Regions from separate parts of the Homo sapiens genome. Here all the other regions are linked to region 2. Evidence: fine-mapped expression QTL. A gene starts in region 2. Each other region holds a variant in brackets. All regions are shown on one strand. Distances are from middle to middle.

Evidence for each region.
Region 1: its variant is fine-mapped to the expression of B4GALNT4 in whole blood (TOPMed, PIP above 0.99).
Region 3: its variant is fine-mapped to the expression of B4GALNT4 in whole blood (INTERVAL, PIP 0.94).

What each region holds. Positions count from the first base shown.
Region 1 is chr11:404,371-407,082 of GRCh38, forward strand. It overlaps PKP3 (plakophilin 3), which reads left to right. Exons shown (of 13, transcript NM_007183.4): 13 at 164-538. The coding sequence ends at 199. It overlaps SIGIRR (single Ig and TIR domain containing), which reads right to left. Exons shown (of 10, transcript NM_001135054.2): 7 at 2,692-2,712; 8 at 2,473-2,623; 9 at 1,979-2,168; 10 at 1,346-1,689. The coding sequence ends at 1,526. Among named protein-coding and RNA genes, the nearest start is that of SIGIRR, 9.3 kb to the right of the region's middle. RefSeq lists an enhancer at 1,152-1,845 and silencers at 2,422-2,471, 2,482-2,712. The variant C/T (reference allele first, on the strand shown) is at 1,335.
Region 2 is chr11:368,157-370,902 of GRCh38, forward strand. It overlaps B4GALNT4 (beta-1,4-N-acetyl-galactosaminyltransferase 4), which reads left to right and starts at 1,343. Exons shown (of 20, transcript NM_178537.5): 1 at 1,343-1,798. The coding sequence starts at 1,648. RefSeq lists an enhancer at 1-414.
Region 3 is chr11:438,812-441,557 of GRCh38, forward strand. The region is part of intron 1 of ANO9 (anoctamin 9); the gene reads right to left. LOC105376506 (a long non-coding RNA gene) reads left to right here. Exons shown (of 5, transcript XR_007062542.1): 4 at 1,088-1,169; 5 at 1,674-1,862. It also overlaps the pseudogene RN7SL838P. Among named protein-coding and RNA genes, the nearest start is that of ANO9, 1.8 kb to the right of the region's middle. The variant TC/T (reference allele first, on the strand shown) is at 1,117.

The sequences.
Region 1 (2,712 bases), 36 kb after region 2:
GGGACGCCGGGGGAGGGTCAGTGAAGAGGCCCATGGGAGGATGGAGACCAGGGACCCAGAGAGGAAGGGTCCGGGCCACACCCAGCACACTGCAGGAGGGACAGCGGGCAGAGGGCCACATGGGCAGACATGCACCCTGACCTTGGGCCTCTCTCCACTGTAGAAGGGCTATCGGAAGGAGGACTTCCTGGGCCCATAGGTGAAGCCTTCTGGAGGAGAAGGTGACGTGGCCCAGCGTCCAAGGGACAGACTCAGCTCCAGGCTGCTTGGCAGCCCAGCCTGGAGGAGAAGGCTAATGACGGAGGGGCCCCTCGCTGGGGCCCCTGTGTGCATCTTTGAGGGTCCTGGGCCACCAGGAGGGGCAGGGTCTTATAGCTGGGGACTTGGCTTCCGCAGGGCAGGGGGTGGGGCAGGGCTCAAGGCTGCTCTGGTGTATGGGGTGGTGACCCAGTCACATTGGCAGAGGTGGGGGTTGGCTGTGGCCTGGCAGTATCTTGGGATAGCCAGCACTGGGAATAAAGATGGCCATGAACAGTCACTGCCCTGTGTCCTTCCATGGCTGGCCCGACCCTGTGGCTGGCAGCATGATCCTGGGACTCAAGGTGTCCCCAGGCACCCCCTGCCCCTGAGGACACCCACCCCCTGGGCTCACACACAAGCCTCCCAAGATCAGAGGACATAGGACATGGAGAGCCCAGCAGAGGGACAGCTGGCACCTCAGGGCCGAGAGGGGACAGGGTGGACAGCGGGTGCACCACAGGCACAGACGGAGCAGAGCTGGGGGCCTCGAGAGTAGAGGGGTGACTGGAGTAGGAACAGGGTGGCTGCCTCGTGGGCTACACTCATGCGGCAAATGAACCCAACTCCTCCGCCGCCCACCCTGGGCCTGGAGTTGCCTGGACCAGGGGCTCTCACACTGGCTGCCTGAGGTTTGGGGTCCAGTGGGCTCTCGGACACCCCCATCCATCTCACCCAGAGCCAGGCCATTTAGTTGTGAAGTTACTGTGGATATTCTTAAAACAGAAAGTTTCTGTGAAGCTCAGAACTTGAGGTCTCTAAGGAGCCTGCCCCCATCCAGGATCTGCCTGCATGGGAAGGGTCTAGGAAGAGTCACGTCCCCAACCAGGGACCAGGCAAGGAGGCCCAAGGAGGCTACTGTAAGCACGGGACACGCCTGAGCTGGCTTAGGAAGGGGGATGGAGAGAGGGCAGATTTGGTGATTTGGCGGGTGGGGATGAGAGAGGGAGGGGTGGGGATGAGAGAGGAGGGGTGGAAGGCTGAGAGAGCCGCAGAGGGAAGCCGAATCCGAAACCTTCCGCCGCAAGGGAGGAGAC[C/T]GAGGCCCCAGCAGAATCCAAAAGGACTTTATTTTCTGGCACTGGGAGGCGCCCTGAGGCCACAGCCTTTTCCCAGGGCTGCTGGCAGGGTCCCAGGGCTGCTGGCAGGGGTTGTGGTCCTGTTGAGCAGAGGAGCGACGCCGCTGCCCTGGCCCCCGCTGTCCCTATGATCCTGCACTCTGGGGTGGGAGCTACATATCATCCTTGGACACCAGGCAGTAGAAGTCTGTGCGGGCACTGTAGTTTCGCGAGCCGAGATCCGAGACGTCCACTTCGCTGCTCCGGCTCTCTCCCAGCGAGACCCCACTGGTGTGCGGTGGAGCTGATGGCTCTCCAAAGACAGGCCCCCGGACACCTGGGGTGGGGAGACCGAGACGCCTGAGGTGGCCACCCACAGCCTTGGCCCAGACCCACTGCCAGGGGCTGCCCCTGCTCACCCCCTGCTGTGATGGCCTGTGAGGCCCAGGAAGTTCCCAGGCAGACCGAGGGCCGAGCACCTCCAGGGCAGAGGCCGTGCAGGGGCTCCCGGTGCCGGGAAGAGTCCTCAACACCTGGAGCCCCTCCAGGCCCTGTGCCCTGTGCCTGCCCCCACTCCGCCCTGTGCTGAGCTTCTCCAGTTGGGGAGTGGGGCTGGGCGGGCATACCCAGGTCGCCCTCAGGGTCCGGGTCCACCTCTGAGTCCAGGGCCCGGCCCTCAGGGACTCGGCCTCGAAGAATCAGCATGGGGTCCTTGTCGTCCTGCAGCTGCGTCTGGGGGTCTCCTTCCACAGGCCTGTACTGCACCTTCCGCGGCAGCGCCAGCTGCACTTCTTTCCAAAAATCGGAGGAAGGAGTCTGGGGGCCAGGTCGGGGCGGTTTGCAGGTGTGAACACCTCGGAAGCCCCTGGCGTCCTGGCCCCCAAGAGCACACCTGCGGCTGCCCACGGGTTCCACGCCCTGCGACAGCTATTCCGTGGCTCCGGGGGCCTCAAGGGCGGCTCCCCGCATCGGGGCCCCAGGCAGCGGAACCTCCCCCCAGGGCCCATTCACAAAGCGTGGTGCCGCAGAGCTCCCCACGGAGGGGTCCCAGCCTGGAGCCCGGGCACCGCCCATCTCTAACCCGCCGCTAGCCCCGGACCCTCCCGCGCCTGCTCCGCACCACGGAGCCGGGCCTCCAGAGCAGCAAGGTCACCAGGTGGCGGTGCTGGCGCAGCAGGCGGAGCGCCGGGTGCGCGGGGTCGCGCCTCTGGCCCTCGAAGGTGATGAAGATGGGTCTGCGGGTGAGCTCCAGCAGCCGGCACAGGCCCTCCCTGCGGGGCGGGACCGTCAGGGGGGTGGGTGCTACGCTGGGGCCCACCCAACCCCGCGCGGGACCCACCGGAAGCTGTGGCTGCACCAG
Region 2 (2,746 bases):
AGATGAGGAGCTGATGGGGTGGGGGAAGGTTTGAGAGACCGGGTGTTGTTTAAGGGCCGGTATGAACAGCAGGATGTAACCAGCTTGCTTCTGTGCTCAGAAGTTAGGGGAGGAGGATGGAGGGGAAGGAGGGAAGGAGTTGAGGTCTTAAGAAGGCAACTTCTGGGCAATCTTCCATTGTGAGGTGGGGTCCACGTCCCCACAACCCACGAACTTGGGTGGCCGTGCGGCATGTGGCAAACCTGAGGGGTGACTCCAAGATGCTTCACTCTGTGTGCTGGACCGGGAGGCTGCCCCTGGCAGCTGAGCCTGCAGGCGCTCTGGCCAACCACCCGGGGTGAGCCCAGCCATTCCTGCCGAGGGTGCACTGGCTTGGGGCAGAAGTCTCTGGATGGCTCCAGCCTGTCCCGCGGAGCCGGCCCCACCACTCACGTCTTCCCACCGGAGGCCAGCACCTCGAGGAGCAGAGAGGAGCTGTCCCCGAGTGCCCTGAGTTCCTGACCCACAGGACACAGGAACACAGGAACGCTGCTGTTGGACAGCACTGAAGCTGGGCGGTTTGCTACACACCCAGAGACAGCTGAGCAGACAGAGGGAGAAGAGTAGGGTCACGCTGGCAGCTGGACAAGGGAAGTACTGGGGGGACAGAGGGACTGGCAGGGGTTGGTGCAGACCAGGTGAGAAAGGGCACGAAGTGGGACAAGGTCCCGGTGAGAGGCACGACACTGTCACCTGCCTCAGGCCGCGCTCGGTGGGGCGGGGGCCACCAGCTGAGGCCCCTCCTGCCGCCCAGACAGCTCGGCCCCCTGCGGCCCCAGCCCTGCAGGCTGAGATCCCGCAACGACTCCCACCCCTGGGCTGAAGCCGGTGCTTGGGCCCCCCCGCCCCCCGGCCTCTCTCGCCCGCCCCCATTCCCCGCCCCCCAGGACCCCGGGTCCCTCCCCTCCCTCCTCCGTGTTGTCCGCCTGCAGTCCTTCGGGTCACTGTTCTCGGGAGGCCGCCCCGCCCCACAGTCAGGCTGTGCCCATCCCCCGCCGCCCCCCACGGTCCCCGAGCCCCAGCGCTTCCCAGCCCCGCGTCTGTGTGCCGCGCCCCCGCGCTCCGTGGCCCAGGTGGACGCGCGCCCCGCGCCCCGCATCCCTGTCCGTCCCGCACCCCTCACCCCCCGCCCCGCACCCTCCGCACCCCCCGCCCCGCCCCGCCTCCCCTCGCCCCGCCTCCTCCGCCCCGCACCCCGCGCCCCGCCCCGCCTTCCCGCGCCCCGCACCCCTCCCCGCGCGCCGCCATTGGCTCCCCGCGGCCTGGCTCGGTCCGATTGGTTCCGCGCGCGCGGCCGGGGCCCGATCCGCGGTGGCAGCCGTGGATGCTGTTCGGTCCCGCCGCCGCCCCAGGAGCGCGGAGCCGGGAGCGGCCGGGCGGGGGGCACCGCGAGGAGCCGCCCCCGCCGCCCACCCCGGGCCCGCGGCCGAGGGCGGCCTGGGGGGGTCGCGGCCGCACCCGGTGGCCGCGCACGGCGGACAAAGGACCATGCGGGGCCGCGGGCGCTGAGCGCGGCGGGGCGGGCCGGGGATGCGGCGCGGGGCGGGCGGGGGCCGGGGGCTGCAGCGGCGCCGCTGAGCGCGGCCTGGGGCGGGCGCGGCGGCCGCGATGCCGCGGCTCCCGGTGAAGAAGATCCGTAAGCAGATGAAGCTGCTGCTGCTGCTGCTGCTGCTGAGCTGCGCCGCGTGGCTCACCTACGTGCACCTGGGCCTGGTGCGCCAGGGACGCGCGCTGCGCCAGCGCCTGGGCTACGGGCGAGGTACGGCGCGGGGGGCGCGGGGGGCGCGGGGGGCGGGGGCGGCGCGGGGGGCGCGGGGGGCGCGGGCGGCGCGGGGGGCGCGGGCGGCGCGGGCGGCGGGGGCCCCGGGGCGCGGGCCGGGCCTCCCACCGCACAGAGGTCTCGGCTGGGCCCGACCCTCCCGGAGACCCCGCCCGCTGTTCTCCGCTCTGCGATTTGGGGGGAGGGGGCGCGGTTCGGCTCGGCCCGGACGCTCGATGACGTCGGCAGTGACGCGCGCGACCCTCCCAGAGAGGGTCCCTGACTCTGGGATCTGGCTTGGATCCGGTAGTGAGGGGCTGACGGTGGGCTCCTGGGGAAGTCTCTGCCCCTAGACCCTGCTGAGGCTTCCAAGAGGCCTTCTCAGGCCTCGCCTCCACCCCCTGCCCGCTTAGCAGGGCCTCAGTTTCCCTGTGTGCTGGGGACCCGGGCCGGGGCTTGCTGAAGTGGCCGGTGCAGCTGGGACGCTTCCCGGCGGGGGCGCCTTCGGTGAACTGTGCCAGTGTTGTGGGGGTCCATGCGTAGGGATGGGGCCCAGCTTGGGGAGCCTGGCGTAAACTCTCCCAACCCCAACCCACAAACAAAGCAGATGGGGTCACGGTGAGCCAGCCGGGGTAGGGCCTCCTGGAGATGGTGATCTTTGACATACACCTTTGGGGGAAAGAGCATTCCAGACAGGAAGGCGCAGATGAAAGCCTGGCGGTGGGGTTGGGGGAGAAGGTGGGGCAGAATGCCCCCTCTGGAGGAGGGAGGTTAGTGCCATGCCCAGACCAGGAGAGACCCCAGCTGGCTGCCTCTGAGCCTTTTCCAGGGAGCCAGGTGTCCTGAGGGGGCAGAACAATGATACTGGCTGGGGACTCCTGGGCCACTCCACCTGCCAAAGCCCCTGTGTTCTCTTCCTGTACCGGGACGCCTGGACCCACACAGGCC
Region 3 (2,746 bases), 71 kb after region 2:
CCACAGTGAGATGTCTGGGACCCCCATGTCCCCAGTCCATGGGCCCCACCTCCGGGAAACTATGTATGGGCCCACAGGCTTCCAGCTCCCAGGGTAGGGACAGGGGCTGTCCCTACACACTCAGTCTGAGGGCCTCTGAAGCTTCAGCCAGCCTTGCCATCTGCAAACCCAGAGAGGGAGGCCGGCTCTGGGTGGACAGCCGGCCAGGCCCTAGCTCTGACGCCACCGAAACACCCCAGGCCTCAGTTTCCTCGTCTGTACAACAGGGTGTCCTCACCCCAGCCCCCAGGTCACCTCAGCGACGTGCAGACACAGGAAGAAGGTGGACAGAACCACACACTGTTCTCCCCCATCCTTCCTGTCCCACAGCCCTCACAGGTGACACACCCAGTACTCCAGGGCCCCAGGGAGTTTGTGGGGGGCTCTTGGCACCCCCATTGTGGGCATAGGCCAGCGTCCAGTGGGCAAGCCCCTGGTTCCCAGTGAGGAAGCTTCTGGAGACACTGTAGCCTGCAGGAGACCCTCCCTCCCAAGGGCTGGAGTGTGAGGACAGAGCTGGGGGTCCTGCCCATCCATCCTCTTCCCAGTCCAGCCTCCAGGTTGGGGGCAGGCAGAGGAGATGGTTGTGCAGATATGACCCCACCCTACTCCTGAGAGGCCTGGCCAGGGGGTCCCATGACGCACATCCCCCCAGCTGTGCATGAGAAGGAGCAGGCCTGGCCAGGGGGTCCCACGACGCACATCCCCCCAGCTGTGCATGGGAAGGTGTTTGGGCCTCATCTCCTCCTGAGGTCACGTCAAGCCTCTTGGCCGGTGCCCTGAGCCCTCTGGGATCTGGCCCTTGAGAACTTTACAGTTTCGTCATCCACAGAGGGTCCCCTTCTGCCCCACCGCAGTCCCAAGCATGGAGAGGCCCACCTTGTGAGCCACAGCGTCTCGCCTCTGCCCAGCCCACGCATCCTCTGAGCAAACCCTCCCCAGCTGGCTCTGCGCTCCTGAAGCCAGTCTTCTGCCCACCCCCCGGCCCCTCCAGCTGTCCAGTCTGTCATCTGTCAGTTCACCCATCCGTGTGCCCGTCCATCCCCAGACACTGACGGAGCGACCTGCGTGCAGCCC[TC/T]CCAGGCAGTGCGTGGCGTTCGTGGACGCAGGGGCGGGGGCCTACTTGGCAGGTGAGGAGGCATGGAGCTTGGCATTGTAGGGCAAGAGGTTGGCAAAAGGTGAGAAAATGGGGGCAGCATTCCCGGGAGAAAGAACATGTGTGGGCACGCCCTGAGAATCAGGGTGCAGTTGGTGTCTGGGACTCAGCAGTCAGCACCTCCCAGGGACTCAGCACTCAGCACCTCCAAGGAGGACTTGGTAGCTACTACTCCTGGTGACTCAGCACTCGGCACCTACGGAAACTGAGTCCAGGGACTCAGTCCTTGGTACTTCAGCTTTGCAGAAGCATAAAGGGCAAGAAGGGAGCTGCCAGAAGGGGAGGCTGGAGGTTGGCAGAGGCCAATCAGGGGAGGCTGCTAGGCTTCTTGGCCAAATGGAGAGCTTGGACTTCAGCAGGGGGCAGTGGGGAGCCATGGAAGGGGTTAGAGCAGAGGAAAGGCACGCCCAGATCCAGCCTGGAGCTGGGACTAGCAAGTCCTCCCCATGTCTGCAACTGTCCTTTTTGATCACCACAGGAGTTTTGACCTGCTCCGTTTCCGACCTGGACCGGTTCACCCCTCCTTAGGCAACTTGGTGGTCCCCTGCTCCTGGGAGGTCACCATACTGATGTGCGGACAGCCAGTCAGCCTAACACACTACAGCCCAGAACTCCCAGGCTCGAGCAACCCTCCTGCCTCAGCCTCCGGAGTAGCTGGGACCGCAGGCTCATGCCACCACGCCCGGGTTCCAGCAGTCCTCCTGCCTCAGCCTCCCGAGTAGCTGGGAGCGCAGGCACGCGCCACCACGCCCGGGTTCGAGCAGTCCTCCTGCCTCAGCCTCCTGAGTAGCTGAGACTGCAGGTGCATGCCACGACGCCCGGGTTCAAGCAATCCTCTTGCCTCAGCTTCCGGAGTAGCCGGGACCACAGGCATGCGCCACCAGGCCCGGCTGCAACTGTCTTTTTTGAAGGACTGATGCTCTCACTTCCAACAAACCAGGTGCTGCTTCTCCCAACCCAACCCCTGGCCAGCCCCAAGTCTCTCCTCTAACCCCCAGCATGGGAGGAAGGGGCTGGCAGAGGGGACCCTGAGCTCAGGCTAAGGGGCATCAGGTGCTGGGCTGAGCAGCCAGGGTGTCAGACCTGGATGTGGAGGGCCGAGGAGAGCCCTGGGCGGAGATGGAGCAAGAGGCCGCCGGCGCAGCCCACACGTGGAGGCCCTGGCAGGCCGAGAGGGAGGCTGGTTTCACTCCACACCTCACCACTGCCTCCTCCCTGGGCCGACCAGGTGCTGACCTGCCCAGGTGTTGGCCCTGGCCCCAGGTGACCTCTTCACTGGCAGAGGGGAGAAAGGATGTCTTTCTACGTGTTCACCTGCACTCCCTCCCCCAGAATCGGAATCCAGCAGCAGCAGTCAGCGCCCACCCCCAGAATCGGAATCCAGCAGCAGCAGTCGGCCCCCACCTGTGCTGGGCGGGGTCCTTGGGGAGCAGAGAGCCCACAGCCCGCCGGCCACTCTGCAGCTCCCAACCCTGGGGCAGCCTGCCTGGTGCCCACAGCCCGCTCCCCCTTAGGGGCCAGCTGCAAGGCAAAGCTGCCAGGTCTGGGGTC